Linked DNA regions of Homo sapiens: region 2 is linked to region 1. The links come from fine-mapping of genetic effects on gene expression. Tissue or cell type: whole blood. Region 1 holds a variant in brackets; the other region holds the start of a gene. All regions are shown on one strand. Distances are from middle to middle.

Evidence for each region. PIP is the estimated chance that this variant, and not a neighbour inherited with it, causes the effect.
Region 2: RFTN1 starts here. The variant in region 1 is fine-mapped to the expression of RFTN1 in whole blood (TOPMed, PIP above 0.99).

Annotation. Positions count from the first base shown.
Region 1 is chr3:16,428,720-16,436,826 of GRCh38, reverse strand. RFTN1 (raftlin, lipid raft linker 1) reads left to right here. Exons shown (of 10, transcript NM_015150.2): 3 at 2,790-2,976. Among named protein-coding and RNA genes, the nearest start is that of RFTN1, 81 kb to the left of the region's middle. RefSeq lists a silencer at 2,973-3,102. The variant C/A (reference allele first, on the strand shown) is at 3,119.
Region 2 is chr3:16,508,942-16,517,048 of GRCh38, reverse strand. It overlaps RFTN1 (raftlin, lipid raft linker 1), which reads left to right and starts at 3,350. Exons shown (of 10, transcript NM_015150.2): 1 at 3,350-3,607. RefSeq lists enhancers at 1-63, 64-564, 3,871-3,950, 4,501-4,910, 6,639-6,798 and silencers at 1,135-1,184, 1,792-1,967, 3,121-3,190, 3,221-3,580.

The sequences.
Region 1 (8,107 bases):
ATAATATGAAATTAAAATTGTTTGAAGTAGTGTTTTATACAAATAGATTAATGGATCACAGTCATAAACTCATATTTGGGAATATAATAAATGATAAGTGGCATATGATATATGGCATCTCAAATCAATGAGGAAAAATGGATAAACCCCTGTGGTGGGGGGGTGTTCAATTCATATTGCACACTTTACATGGGATAAATTCCAAATCGATAAAAGATTTATATGCAAAAAATGAAATATGTATTATGGGAATTCACAAGAGAATTGTTTTATAATCCCAGGTCTTTCTGCTATGACACAAAACTCAGAAGCCATTGAAAGCAAGATTGGTAAATTCAGCTTCATTTAAAAAGTTTTTCATGGAATCACTTGAACCCAGGAGGTAGAGTTTGCAGTGAGCGGGGATAGCACCACCGCACTCCAGCCTGGGCAACAGAGAGAGACTTTGTCTTAAAAAAAAAAAAAAAATTTTTTTTTTCATGGCAAAACCCACTATATGCAAAGTCAAAAGGCAAGCAACAAATTGGGGGCAGATACATCAAAAACTAAATTTCCTAATATGTAAAGAGTTCTTACAAACCAATAGAAAAAAAGCCCAATGACTAAATAGGACACGAGGCAAAGATAATGGACAGACAGTTCACAGACAAGGAGACACAGCATTTAAATATGAAATGTTTAATAAGAAAAAATACAAATTACATAATAAGATAAATATAAGTTACCATGTCACAGGGATCTTTTTTTTTCCACTGAGAATTGTCAGAGTATGGGAAAAGAAATAACTTTATACATCACTGATGGCAGATAAATCCATAATACTCTATGGGGGAAATAGCACTAGCTGAAAAAATTACAATGCACACATACATATGTGTGTGATATATATATATATATATATATATATATTTACATCTCTGATTTTTTATTTATTTACTTTTTGTGGGTACATAGTAGGTGTATATATTTATAGGGTACATGAGATGTTTTGATACAGGCACACAATGCATATATTTTTAACCCAGCAATTCCACATCTAGGAATTTATTTTGTATATGTACTATAAGCGCACACATGCAAAATCATGTAGGAATGAGATTTTTCACTAAAAGATTACTTGTAAGAGCAAAAGTTTGCATACTCCATGGTATATCACACAATGGATCTGTAGAAAAGAATGAGAAAGCACTCTGTGTACTGCTATGAAATGGTCTCTTAAGAAAAGTATACTGTTTTGTTTTGTTTTTTTGCTTTTTGAGACGGAGTTTAGCTCTTGTTGCCCAGGCTGGAGTGCAGTGGCGCAATCTCGGCTCACTGCAACCTTCGCCTCCCAGGTTCAAGAGATTCTTCCGCCTCAGCCTCCCGAGTAGCTGGGATTACAGGCATGCACCACCACACCGGACTAATTTTTTATATTTTTAGCAGAGATGGGGTTTCATCATGTTGGCCAGGCTGGTCTCAAACTCCTGACCTCAAGTGATCCGCCTACCTTGGCCTCCCAAAGTGCGGGGATAACAGGCGTGAGCCACTGCCCCTGGCCGAAAAGTATACTGTTAATTGATAAAAATTGATTCTAAAAAGCTAGGTGTGTAATGTTATGCTGACATTTGTGTAGAAGAGGAGGGAAATATATAGACCTGTTCACTTTTGTATGAATTCTTTGATTGTTAATGCATATACACACAAAAAGATAATACTGATTTCCTCTAAGGAAATAAATGTAGGAGGTAGAGGATAGGGCTAGGATGTAGACTTTTCACTGAATACACATTTGTACCTTTTGACTTTTGAACGTTGTTTGCCCTTCTCAAAAATAAATAAATTAAAAATCCAAATTTTAAAATAATTCAATAGGTGAAAATATTCCTGGTTTTTATTTGTGTAATTCTAATGCTGAATTAAAGTGTGTTTTCAAATATTGGTTAGCCTTTTACACTTTTAAGGCAATTGCCTATTCATATATTTTTCCCGTTTAAAAATTATTTTGGGGTGGGGAGTGTTTTGCAAATTTAAGGAAATTAGCCCTTTGTCTTAAGGGTCACAGAAATTTTGTTCCAGTTTGTCTTTTGACTTTGTTTATGCTGCTTTTTGCCACCTAGTATTTTTATATTTGCTCAATGTATTTTTCTTCTTTTCCCTTCCCTTCTTCCTTTCTTTCTTTATTTCTGTGTGTTTTTTTTTAGAGGGTGGAAATGACTTTTTCATTGTGATCACTGATAAGACGACTCTAGATCTAAGACAGTCCATTATTATTTTATTTTATTTCATTTTTGAGACAGTGGCTTGCTCTGTTGCCCAGGCTAGAGTGCAGTGGCCCTATCATGGCTCACTGCAAACCTCCCCATTTCCAGCTCAAGCGATCTTCCCACCTCAGCCTCCTGAGTAGCCAGGACCACAAGCACTGGCTAATTTTGAGGGGGTTTTTTTGTTTTTGTTTGTTTGTTTGTTTGTTTGTTTGTTTGTTTAAGAGAGACCGAGTTTTACTATGTTGCCCAGGCTGGTCTCAAACTTCTCGGCTCAAGCGATCCATCTGCCTCGGCCTCTCAGAGTGCTGGGATTATAGGCCTGAGCCATCACGCCTGGCCGACATCCAATTATTAATGCCTTTGGGTGATTTGGAAAACGACAGGCTGCTTATAAAGTCTGTTTGAAGACAGTAAAAACTGGGACAAACTCATTTTAGCAGTGACCTAGAGGATCCTCCCCGAGGGCAAGGGAAGAGGGGTTTGGGCAGGGCTGAGTGGGCGTTGTGATGGGTCTTTGATGAGCCTCTCCTCTCTCCACTCCAGCGGAGCTCCCTGGGTCCTCAGCAGTGAGGCTGGCCTCCCTGCGTGACCTGCCCGCCCAGCTCCTGGAGCTGTACCAGCAGGGCTTCTCGCTGGCGGCCCTGCACCCCTTCGTGCAGCCCACCCATGAGCGGGAGAAGACGCCCCTGGAGCACATCTTTAGAGCCATCCTGATCAAGAAAACCGACAGGTAAGGCCTCCACGGGTGAATGGGTAGCATCCTGTTGCGGCTAAGTTATGCTCAATAGAGGAGGGGAAGTGAGAGGATGGGGTTGGGGGTTGAAATTTGCATGCTGTCCTCAGGGCCTCAGCCCTCAGACAGGTGAGGCAAA[C/A]AGTTAGACAACCAGAGAGGTTTCTTTCCTAGCATCCTGCGATGAAAAACAAATGCATGTCCAACTGCAAGTAGAGAGTTCCATTTTACATTCTTTCCCTCTTTTAACTCACTGGATTAAACTCAGCTAGAAAAATGTCTCCTCAGAAGAAGCATATGCCCAGAATGATGTGGCTAGTAAAAGTGCAATACTTTTAAACTGAAAGGCATGACTGGAAAACAAATAATTTTGTTTAGAGGCTATAGACAAACTTAATGTCTTCCCGCAAAGTCTAGAAATACTTTAACATTTTGCGCCTACCATAAATTCTGTCAATCACTTGACAGTTAAAAAAATACAAAAAATAAACACCACCTAAATAAAATGCTATAATTGGTTTGGTCTTGATTTAGATTTTCAGGGCTTGGGGATGTTTTTCAGTTTGGCTTGCCCAGTTGAATGCTTATGCCTATATTTCAGTTGAGCCTAATTAAGAAAAGAGAAGTGGGGTTAGTCTTTCAAAAGGAACAATATTAATTTTTTTAAAAAAAAAAAACAGTGAGGATGGGATGGAGAGAGCAGTATGTTTTTCCTGCTTTCATAAAAATAAAAATTAAAATGAAGTCTGGGAAAGGAAATCAGATTTGTCTTTTGGCCAACTATCATAGAAGGAATGACAGCATGTGCCACATTTTAAAAAGGGAGTACAGAGCAGCTCCTCCTTGTTCTCTCCTTTTAAAGTCACTTTGCAGGTAGACAAAGCATTTGGCTGGTGTGCTCATAAGGGACAGCTGTGAGGCATGAGGTTGCGTGTCTAAGACTGACTCCTCTTTCCTTTCCTTTCCTTTATTTCTTCATGGTTGATCAAGCTCTGGGGCTCTTACTCTACATCAACACACATTACGTCAACACACATTAGAATTCAAAGTGAAAGGTGGTGCATGTTTTTGCTCGAACCCAGAATTCACACATGTTTTGGTAGGGCAAGACTTTTCTCAGTGTCTGCCTTTTATGTGTATTAGTTTGTCTTTCTCTCTCTCTCTCTTTTTTTTTTCTGTAGAAACAAGGTCTCGCTATGTTGCCTAGGCTGATCTTGAAATCCTGGCCTCAAGCGATCCTCCCACCTTGGCCTCCCAAACCACTGGGATTATGGGTGTGAGCCACTGAGCCTGGCTGCATATTGGTTTCTTTTCTTTTCTTTTTTATTTCCTTGAGATGGGGTCTCACTCTGTCACCCAGGCTGGAGCACAGTGGCATGATCTCAGCTCACTGCAACCTTTGCCTCTCAGGCTTAAGCCATCCTCCCACCTCAGCCTCCCAGGTAACTGGGACTACAGGTGCACGCCACCATGCCTGGCTAATTTTTTTATTTTGGGTAGAGACCGGGTTTCGCCATGTTGCCTAGACTGGTCTGGAACTTCTGGGCTCAAGAGAGTTTCCCACATAGGCCTCTCAAAGTGCTGGGATTAGAGGTGTGAGCCACCACGCCCAGTCCATTATTGGTTCCTTTAGGTTGATTGGCTGTTGATCATTATCTGGGTCAATCATGAGAAGATTGGGGGCCACAGTGGTTTTGAGTGACACTGACACATAGGATATGTATAATGACAGTAGCTTATATTTAGTGAGCACTCACTGTATGTGAGGCTTGATCATTATCATTTCATCTGTATCATATGGCTATGAAATAAGTGTCATCTTTGTTCCCATTTTAAAGGTGAGAAAACTGAGACACAAATGTTGAGTTGTCAAGGTCACACGGATGGCAGCAAGCAGAGTTCTGCCTTGCTCCCAGGAAGGCTGTCTCCCGTACCTGCATTCTTAATCCTGGCATGAAGCACGTGCTGAGTTCCTTTACCCACAATTCTTGTGGAGAACCACTTTAGGAAAAGAAAGTGGGGGAGGATATCTTTGATCTTCCATAAAGAAGTACTTTTATTACTCAACCTTTCCCCCATTTTACCCCTCAGTAGTCAGTAAGTAAATCAGAATTTCAGCAAGGAAACAAAACAGACAAATGAGTTGTATGGATTCTATAAGGCATCCACTGGGCTCCAGGGATTCTATTCTGCAGATTATCCGAGTGGCCTTAGTGTTTAAAGGAGACAAGTCCATTTGGGTCAGATCACTGGCACATCCTTCAGTGTGATCTGCCATAGGCGGTGACATGAGCTCAGGACTTGGCCTGAGCTTAACTCAAAAAGTGAAGGTGTATCTTTTTTTTTTTTTCTCCCTGCTGTGGAGCAACACTTCTCAAACTTTAATGTGCTTGTGAGTCTCCTGGGGATATGGTTAAAGAGCAGAGTCTGATATAGCAGGTCTCAGGGGAGGCCTGGGACTCTACATTTCTAACTTGTTTCCAGATGGGGCAGATGCTGATGGTCCGTGGCACGCACTTTGAGTAGCAAGTGTGTGGAGGACCTAATTCTTGCCTGGCTTCATGCCTGGCACTCAGCAACACTATTGGGGCTTGCCACTTTACTCCTAGGAGAGCTGTAAGCACCAGGCTAGGTAAGAAAGAACACAGAACTCGTGGCCAGGAGGCCTGCGTTCTAGGCTGCACTTGGCTACTAGTAAGCAGTGTCGTGCAAGGGGCACATCGATGGATCTTTCTCGGCCTCCGTATTCTAGCTGCTACAATGAGGGGCTGTTACTACATGATTTGCAAGGCTTGCACCAAACTCTAAGTTATCTGATGGGACAAGATGGGTGAGGAAGCCCGTCTTCAGAAATAAGAACCACCACTTTGGGGAATAGTGCATTATAAGCCAGCAGTGAAGCTGGGGGCTCAGTAGGGGTTGTTTACTTCCACTAACGTAGCATGAACAAATGAACTTACTTTCCAGAAGACAAAAATGAGCAAACTGTTGAGAGGAATGAGACTTTGTATGCAGGAGGGTTTTCAAGAAAGGGAAGTTGGCAGTCTCCTTGGGTTTGAGCTGACTTTCATCCAGAGTTCCTGAACTGCCTGCCTGATGAACTTAATGAACATTTCAACTCCTGGACAAGCAGATCCAGAGAAGGAAATTCCTTAGGTAACTTTGTGTTGAGTCTTTGGAACTGCCTTTTTTAAAAAAATGCAAAAGTTTGATAATTTATCATGTAAAATGAGGCAAAAATGATCAAGAGGATCATCCCCACTTCTAGCCCCAATGGTATTAGGTGGGAGGAGTGGTGGAGGTTGGAAGCAGTCATTGTAAAATATAATTTTAAAGTACAGGAATTTTCTCTCCTAGCAAATGCAATAACTGCATTTTTTTTGTATTATGGGGAAAAGACTCCAACGATCTTAAAAATAAGCAAACAAAAAAACATCAAGGCCAGGTGCAGTGGCTCACACCTATAATCCCAGCACTTTGGGAGACCAAGGCAGAAGATTCTCTTGAGCTCAGAAGTTCCAGACCAGCCTGGGCAAAGTAGAGAGACCTAGTAGCTACTAAAAATTTTAAAAATTAGCTGGGTGTAGTGGCGCACGCCTGTAGTCCCAGCTACCCGGGAGGCTGAGGTGGGAGGATTACTTGAGCCCACGAGCTGGAGGCTCCTGGGATGTGACTGTGTTATTGCACTTCAGCCTGGGTGACAGAATGAGATCCTGTCTCAAGAAACAACAACAACAAAAAAAAAACGGACTTTTTCTTTATCAATAGGGAGTTTAAGTAGTAAAAACAAAACAAAGGAAGACTTTTGTGATTAATTTTTAATTCAGACAGTTAAAGTGATACTTTTCACAAAGTCTGCCAAAGTTCTGACAGTTATAGATGCTGTTAAATGAAATGAGTTAGCTTTTAAAAGAGAAAGAAATACTTGGTTAATATTTTTCAAGTGGAGCACATTGAAAGAGATGTAGATACACATTCTAGATTATTGTTGACCCAAGTGAACTTCATTACCAAGAATCACCATGAGATGACTCTGTGAAACTTCGATATCAACCTAATGTGTTTGGAGGGTTCACATAAAATTTTTAACAAATAACTGGGCTTTGGGATATGCCAGAAACACCAGACGGAACCCCTCAAGCCTGCATTTATCCCCTCACTCATTCACTAACACTTGCTGAGTGAGTACTCTTTTCAGAGTATTGTGCTAGGAGCTCTATGTGGTGGGAAGTTAGAGAGTGCAAATGCCAGGCTCAGTTGAATGTGGAGCCTGCCTTCCAAGCACTTGCAGTCTAATTAAGTAAATGAGATATGTGCCTCATGCCACAGGAGTTTGGGAGAAGGAGATGCCACCTCTCACTGGAAGGGAAACCAAGGAAATGTTTCTGGAGGGGCAGCTTTTAACTTGGGCCTGATTTCTTTTGGGCAAACATGGGGAGTAATGAGCATGAGGCAGGAAGAGTTTATTTAAATCTCCTAATGAAATGTTTTCTAGTAGTATTTGAGTAATTGGAGAGCATCGTTGACAGTCTAACTAAATTATTAATGAGTCATTCCAAAAGTAGTTCTCAAGTGCAGTAACATTCCTCTGAGCTCACTGCCATTTTGACAGATTTCACTTACATCCCTGAAAAATTACCTGATCTTTTCTTCTGAAAATTCTAATAACTGCCATTTCATTTTACCATGGCAGGCCTAGCCACACATCTAACTGTAAACTGTTCTTAATTCTAAGTGTATTGAATTTAGTCAAGTCAGTTACTTTGACTCAAGTTACTTTGACTCAAGAATGAATAGCTGAATATGAAATACTTAGTGAATAAGTAGAAAGAGAGTTTGTACTTCATTTTCTCAACTCTTTCTTTGGAACACTTAGTGATTTTTAATAGACAATATAGTTGCACTCACTCTGAATTCTAAGTATAGTTAAGTGATCCTTCATTTTTTTCAAGTAGTTTTCCTTAGAATGAGTTGCTAAAGATCTTGAAACTTGATGGCTAACAGAAGTCAGTTATTAAAACGTCACTTCTGATGTTTCATGAGTGTGGGTTTAATTCTAGGTTGTTTTATGGTTATAGATGTAACTGCAGTACAAAAATGCATGGTGCTGGCCATTTTTCAGCTGTTGAAT
Region 2 (8,107 bases), 80 kb before region 1:
CACAAGTGTACTCTGCTTTAACGTGGCCAAGGGTGCCATGGTCTTCCTAGGGGCGTGCCTGTGCAGGCTGTGCCTGTCACCATGAACAAAGGGCAGGGGCCTCCTCCAAAACCACTGGCTTGGGGCACAGAGCTCAGGCCCCTGCCACCGTGGCTCCTTACAGGCACGATTGTCACCGGATGCAGGGCCAGCTTCCTATAACTGTTTAGTACAGAGCAGCTGGCCAAACTGTGAGCTCACTGTGGCTGCAAACCCATTAAAATATTAACTGTGATGATAAAGATGAATAATTATTGCACCTCCAGGGCATAGATAAGTCTAGTTCTGTCTCCCACCAGCCCTGAAACTCTGCTGTTCAGCTGGCGAGTGTAAGGTCTGGGTTTCGTGGTCCTGTACATAAACAATTAGGACAATAGCTCTTCAGGTTCCAAAGCTTTTGTTTGATCCATTTCTGCTATGAACTGTGATTACTCTCTGCAGAGAGGGGGAATTGAATTATTTTGGGCTAAGTTAGGAGCAGGGTGGACCTAAGTGAAGTGAAATTGTGGGGATGGGGTCTGGTGGGAAGAAGGTGAGCAGAATAGGTTAGCTGGGATTCTCCTTCCCTCCAAGCCTCAGCATAGTTAGGATGCAGCGAAATTGCTCCGGCTGCTGGTACCCATGGCCTTAATCATCTCCAGAGTGGGGTGGTGCTGCTGAGGCCAAGAAAGAATTATTCCAGCGGGGGGTTCCTTTAACTGAGCTTTTACAAGAATCGTGCAGTCTGGCCACAGCAGCTTCTTACACTTGCCTAGGCTGGCTTAACTCCTCTTCTTTCCACAGGGGGTGTGAGGAGATCCAGCTTCCCCATTAGCTTGGGACCTGCGTCTTATTGACTGTGAACACTCGGGACCCCAGTTCTGGGGCCATCTGTGACCTGTCATGCAGTAATAGCTTGGTTTTTCCCGTGTTCAGCTCCTCCCCGAGTACTTAGTGTTAAATCACAGGGGGAGGAAGTGTGAGCAGAGAAAAAACAGCACTATTACATGACCCCCGATGAGACCGCTGTGATAGAATTAAAAGCTGCCGCCCTAGGACATTCTAACAGATGACATTGTGAGGTTGCCAAGGTAACCCACTAGGATACAGTCCCAGCATCTTTGGGGTTGGGGCTGGGTAGGCAAGGTCAGTTAGAAGTGAGACCCAGCTGCCCAGGGTCTCTCCCATGGCTGGCCAGTCCATAGCAGTCAAGTGGAAAATCCAGGCAGCTCTCTACAGAACACAAGTGAATCCAACATTTGGCTCCTCATTAAATATTCCAGGTGAAAGAGAATTGGAACACCCTGGATAATTGCTGAATGCAGGTTAAGAAGAGCCTTGAAAGATCTGCATGCTATTGGCTCATCCACTCATTCCACACATATTTACTGAACACCTACTATGTGCCAGTAGGAAGCATCAGAATATCAAGAAGATCAGGAGTTCTAGAAAACCCTCAAAAATGCAGATCCAAGCAGGGAAAAAAGTCATTTAAGACATTTGCCCATGATTATTAGCACTCGGGAAAATATTGAGTGGAAGAAAATGGAAGCAATCAGAATAGCATATTAACCTCAAGCACTGGTGTCTTAAAAAAAAAAAGCACAAAAAACACAACGGTGTGCAAAAGTTTTATAGAGTGAAAATGATTTGCTTAAAAGAAATCAAGCACACTGCAACTAGGTTATGCTGCATTCCCCCACCCCCACCCTCCTTTTTCCTTTATCTTCTTTTAAATGCCTACCGGTTAACACCTATCAATTTTATTTTCTTTCTGTGGCCTAGTGACCAGCAAAGGATCAGAAAGATTTTGGATGGACCCTGACTTGCAGCAATTCAAGGCCTCGGGCAGATAGATAGCATGAAGACCCCTCCCTTTGGCTTCATAAATGGGTGTTCACAACCTCTGGTGATGCCCCTGAGCAAATGTCCCTGCGCACTACTGTCTGAACCTGGACTTACGTGGTCACCTGGTCTTATTTTCTTTCATGTGGCAAGCTCAAGTGTAGGGGGGAAATGGGGGACACTGGGGATAGTGGTGGTGAGTGTGACACCAGGAAAAGGTGGGGTGGAAAGGGAAAGGAGAAAAACAAATAAAAACAAAACAGTGGTGAGGGAGGGGGAGCAAAACAGAACTAGAAAGGCTATGGAAAGAGAAAATAAGGAAGAAAATCTCTGAGAAGCTGTGGTAACAGGAAGAGTCCCTGAAAACAAAATAGTGCTTCCTTACTTGCTGGAGGAGTGTTATTAGTGCCAGAAGGACCTCATCGAAACACTGCTGGGCCCCTAAACCAGCCCTCCACCCTGTGTGCTCCAGTGCTTAACTTTGCCCACACAGGGTCTTCTTTGCCCAATTAGAAAATGGAGATAATTAATTAAATTATCTCACCCTTCTTGTTCTAGCCCCCTTAAAATAATGATAATAGCTAAGTTATAGAGTGGTTGCTAAACACTTTACATATAATAACCCACGAAGAAGTGCCATGTGACAAATAGGCGCAGAGCAGTTAAGTCACTTACCCAAAGTCACACAGCCAGTAAGTACTAAAGCCAGGAATCCAACCCTGATTATTTGACTTTAAAGTTCCCCCTCTTAACCCCTACACTGTAATTCTGCTTGGTTTAGTTTTACGAAGAAAATATTTTCTAATGGCTCCTTGCCTCACATCTTCACTTTACTAATGCAGCCTGGTTTACTAGTGCTTCACTCTTTATATAATTTTCTCCCTGGGTGCCTCAAGTTGCCACGCAAGGTGATTCTCCAGATCTTCTCAAACCTCTGGACATCTTAAGTAGGTAGACCAAGGGATGGCAACGGAGACAGTGGCATTACCCTTCCCTGAAGCACTAACTCGCAAGAGAGAATTTCAGCAGCACCTGAGATGTTTAGGGATGCTCCCACCTGTGGAATGGGGTCGAGAAATGGTCCTCTCTCAAGTCGGCCCCAACCCCACCCCCAGCCATCAGCACCTTGATGGCAGTCGCCCTTTCAGCATCCTGGCTCAAATCTTGAAGGATCCTTGTCTCCCAGGCGCTCTTCCTGACAGCACACAACCTTGATTAGGAGGGGCTGGGAGGGAGGATCGATGAGCCCCTGACCCCTGGGTTCTGAGGCTGCCAGGGTCGCTTGCAGCTCGGCCGCGTGGAGGTGACCGGGCGGAACTCCGAGGGGGCGCGGGGAGAGCTGGGCGGGCCCACCGCTCCAGCGGCTGCTGTCAGGGGCCGCGAGGCTTTCCCTGAAGATGCAGCGTAGCATATTTTGCACATGAGTTCAGAGGAAGAGGAAGTGTAGCCGGCGGACGCGCGGCGGCGGCGGCGGGGGCGCGTCGGGGCTGGAGCCGGAGCGCGCCGGGCGCTGGGCGCAGCGAGCGAGAGCGCGGCGGCCGCGGGCTCCGGCGAGGGACAGACGCACCGATCGCCGGAGGGACAGACACACGACCACGCGGCGCCACCGCCCACGCCTCCACCCACCGGCGCCCAAGTCCTCCCCGCGCCGCCTCCTCTGTATGGCACAAACTTTCCTCCCGGGACGGAACACGCTGCCTCAGGGAGCCCGCGACCGCGCCTTCTCCTCCGCCGGTCCCATACGGTAGGCGGCGGGGGGGGCGCGACAGGGCTTGGGGTGTCGACCGGCACAGGCCCCTCCGTTTGGCCCCATGGACCGGGTCTCTGGCGGGTAGTGGGAACCGCGCGTGGCGCCTCCCTGCAGGTTGCTCTTTGCCGGGGCTCCGGAGCTGCCAGAGCAGCACCCCCTGGCCCGCGTCGGATGGGGACCTGGGCTGATCCTTGGGACGCCTGGATCTTGGGCCAACTTTTTTTTGCGGGGAACGGGTGTAGGGGAGTCATTCCTGGAGCGATGTAGGGAGAGGCACTTCGGAGCAGCCTGTTGGGGGTCGTAGGCTCTGCAGGCTCAGAAGCGCCTAGGAAGGACGCAGAGGTGGGGGAGCTTGGAGGCTACAGGTGGGTCCAGGACACACTGCCGCTGGGGTCCTCGGAAAAGAACAGGAGGGAGCTGGTCGCGGAGTCCAGGTTTCCGGGGTGCGCGCGGCCTGGGTGGGGCAGGGTGGAGGCGGTGCCTGACTGCCCCTCTGCGTGTGCCCTGGGAGGTGGGTTTGCTCTGGGGACAGAGGTGCTGGACGTGTAGGAGCAGACATGCCGCGCGCTCCGAGGAAGCGCCGGAACCACCAGAAGCACAGGGACGCGGGTGCCGAGAGTCCCCAGCACTGAAAACGGGGATCTCCTCTTCTGTAAGGGATTTTCTTCCCTTGTCTTAACCCACTTCTCTAGACTCAAGGGACGCCAGGATGGATATGGGTCTGGGCGAGGAGGAGGTGGTTGTGTATTTCGGGAAGCCCCGTTGTCAGGCACGCGCACCCCAGTCCTAGGCCAGGGCTGGTGCCCTTCACCTCCGGTGTCGCTGCCTTTGGCAGCAAGAACCGCGTGGAGGCCAAGGTTGTAGAACCAGGCACGCTCCCTGCTGTCTGTCTGTGACTCTGTGCTTGCCCTCAGCTGCCCTGTGTGGTTATGGGTGATCCCTAGGGACGCTGGGTGGTGTCAGTGAGTTTCTTCGGGGGCTTAAAACAAACAAACAAGAAGTACTTTTTTAAAAAAAAAGTCTGGCTCAATCTCTGTCAGTGGTCACCCCAGTTTCCAGCAACTCATGTGCTGGAACCCTTGTAGTCGGTACAGCTGTTTCAGGAGCTGGGCGCTCAACTAGACTAGGCATCTTCCAACCCCTGCCATCGTGTGTCATCTCAGGATAAGTTAAGGCCTTGCCAGGAAGGAAGCCGGGTGTAATGTGAGCGACCTCTGGGCCTGTGGGTAGGGCCTCTCTGCTGCCGGGATTCCTAATTTGTATCTCTGAACAGCTGAATCCCAACGAAGTTCAAGTGACCCCAGATGTCACCAAACCCCAGAGAGGGGTTACGAAGCAAGCTGTTTGGGACTCTTTGGTGCGTGTGTGCTAACCTCAGTGAAATCACTCTAACCTCAGACTGAGCTCTGCATCCTCTTTTGCCTTCAGTGGGGTTTCTGGCCCGCCTGAGTGATTCAAAGCCCCAGAGCTGGCACGTCATCCTCTGGCTGCATTTGTATATCAAGTCACTGGGTTGGTTTTTCTTTGTTTGCTTTTTGGCTGTATGGACATGGGGCAAATGGAAGTGGAGTGTTGTGCAGTTAGCTAGTAGATTTGGTACAGGAATTGAAAGATAATAAATTGGGAATACAAGTCAGTGAGTTCTTTTTCTCCCTCTTGAGCAGGAATTTTTGGCTTACATTCAAATAATTGCTTTGTCTGTAGGGAAACAAGCAGAAAATCTTTGGCATGAGTGATGTGAGTTCCTGTAAAGCTACTTATGTTCTTCCAGTCTTCTCTTTTCAGCAGAATTGAAACTATGTGGTCCCATGGCTTGGTGGGGCATGGTGCTTTGCCAAATTTCTAACTTGGTGGACTAAGGAGAGGACACTGTGACTCTATCCCCATCCCATTTTTTAAGATATAGAAAAGTTGCAAGAACAGTGACCCCCTAAATATACACACCTAGAGTCTAATTCACATTTTGCCATCTTTGCTTAACTACACACCTCCCCCAACCATCCAGCCATCCCTGTGTCCATCCATAAGTCCAGCTGATGGTTTTATGCACTTTAAAGTAAATTACAGATGTTGGTACAGGTCATTCCTAAACATTTTAGTACACATTTTATTATTTTGACTTCAATATGTGCTTATGGTTTCCTTAAGATAAAATTTATATACATATAGTGAAATGTGCAAAGATGGAAAGTACCATTTGCATAATGTTTTGACAGATGCATGCACCTGTGTAACCCTAGTCCTTATCAAGACAGAGAATATTACTGTCACCCCAGCAGGTGCCTTCATCCTCATTCTCAGTCATTCTCTGCCCTCACCCTCTCAGTGGCAACCACTGCCCTGTATCTCATCATAGGTGAGTTTGGCTTGTTCTTGAACTTCATGTAAATGGAATTCTGCAATATTGTGTAAAGCTCACCATATTTTTGAGATTCATCCATGTCGTATCCATGATTTGGTCTTTTTTTATTGCTGACTTATGTTCCGGAGTATGTCTTACTCCACAGTTTGTTTGTATATTCTGTTAATGGATACATGGATTATTTTAGTTTCTTTCTTCTAGTTTCTTTCTTTCTTTCTTTGGTTATTGTGAACAAAGCTGCCGTGAACATTTGTGTACAAGTCTCTGTAGGGACATGTGTTCTCATTTCTCATGGGTAAACACCTAGTAGTAAATTGCTGGGTCAAAAAGGAGATATATGGAAACCTGAAAAGAAACTGCCAGACCTTTTCCCAACATGGTTATACCATTTTACAGTCTCACCAGCAAAGAATACAAGTATGAGATTCCAGATACTACAGCCCTGTCTTTCCTATCCTAAAGTCAAGAGCATGGTTTGACTAGTGTTCTTCTGGGGCCAGAGGGAATCTGAGGCAGTGGGGAACATGTTTTTATAGGTGGAGGGGCCATAGGAAGTCCCTGACTCTGCCTGAAAATGGGTTTAAACTTAAATCATTGCAGACGATCAGATGAATATTTTATTTTTAGAGATTTTCAGAGAAGGGAATTCCATAGGGGAATGTACCCTTGGTTGTGAAAGAAGATTGATTGAGTGCTTTCTATAAAAAGAAAAATAACCCCAAGCCCCACAGAATTTTACTAAGCTTCTGCCTAGAAACTCCCGGGGGATTTCTGGTCTATTGGTAGGGTTGATATTAACTTGGTGGAGAGTCCCCTTGGATTTCACCGGCTTGGTCAGCCGGCTACTGAAAGGGGTTGTGTTTATTTTGAGGGGCAGGTCAGATTTGGCTTTGTTAAGACTCAGAGAATGACTCTCTTGTGAAAGTGATCTGGCCTCTCAGTGAGAAACATGGCCTGTCAACACCCCTCTTATTGTCCTGACTGGGAAAATGGGCCTGTGCCCCTCGGGTCCCCTAATAACTTAGTCCCTCTCTGTGGTGCCAACAGCCAAAGCTTGCCTTGGCTGATCTAGGAAACGGGAAGTGAACTTTTCTGTCTGAGTGGGACCCCAGGATGCATGTTTTGCATCCCATCAAGGTGTCCCAGGGCTGACCAAGCTTTGCAGGAGTCAGATGGCAGACAGCTCAGTCTTGAGACATTGCACTGTGTTTGGGGACTGTTCCCTCCTCCTTAAAAGCCTAGCGCAGTGCCTGCCAGAGGGTAGGGACACAGTAAACATTGGCTGAGTGATTTCGTGACTCGTGATACCCATCTGGGTGATCGCCTCTCTGGAGGTTGACAGTGGGTGTCAAGATGTCAGGGCCCCAGGATGTATTTTACTCGAGGGCACTTTACCATGGCTTGGAAAACACATTCAAAGGGTTTGGGCCTAGGAAAATTTTGTTCAGTGTAAACTTTCATTGTATTAACACTGTTCTCTTTATTACTGATTTTAATATTGTTAATAAAATACAAATAATTATAGCTGCCACTTGCTGAGTGCTTACCCTTTGCCAGGCACTGTTGTACATTTTGCACGCATTATCTGAATTTAATCCTCATGAGAGGCGAGTACTTATATTATCTTCACTTCAGCCCTGAGGAAATTGAAGCTTGCAAGGTTAACTTTCCCTAAGTTCACGTTTTCATTTTTCTAAGACCTTAAGGGAAGAGACTGTGACATTCTGGTTTTTTGAAGGCAAAATCTGTCTACAATCACGGATTTCCAAATACACAAAGCCATATTATAATAGAAATGTAAATTAGATAATCAGAACAGCGTTACAGGAAATGATACACTGCAATCATTTTCTTTAGTTTTTTTTTGTTGTTGTTTGTTTGTTTTCATTTTGTCTTAAGCTTACTGAGTTTGGCACAGCCAGGGGCTTATACTAATTTTGATGATAATTTAAAATATTATTGGTTGATTAGGATTACAATTTTATTGAAGGAACAGAAAGACGTTGCCAGCTGAACTGTTCAATACAGTAGCCACTAGTTACATGTGGCTATTTACATTTAAATGTAATGAATTAAAAGAAAAGAAAATTTAAAATTCAGTCCTTCCGTCTCACTCACCGCATTTCAAGTGG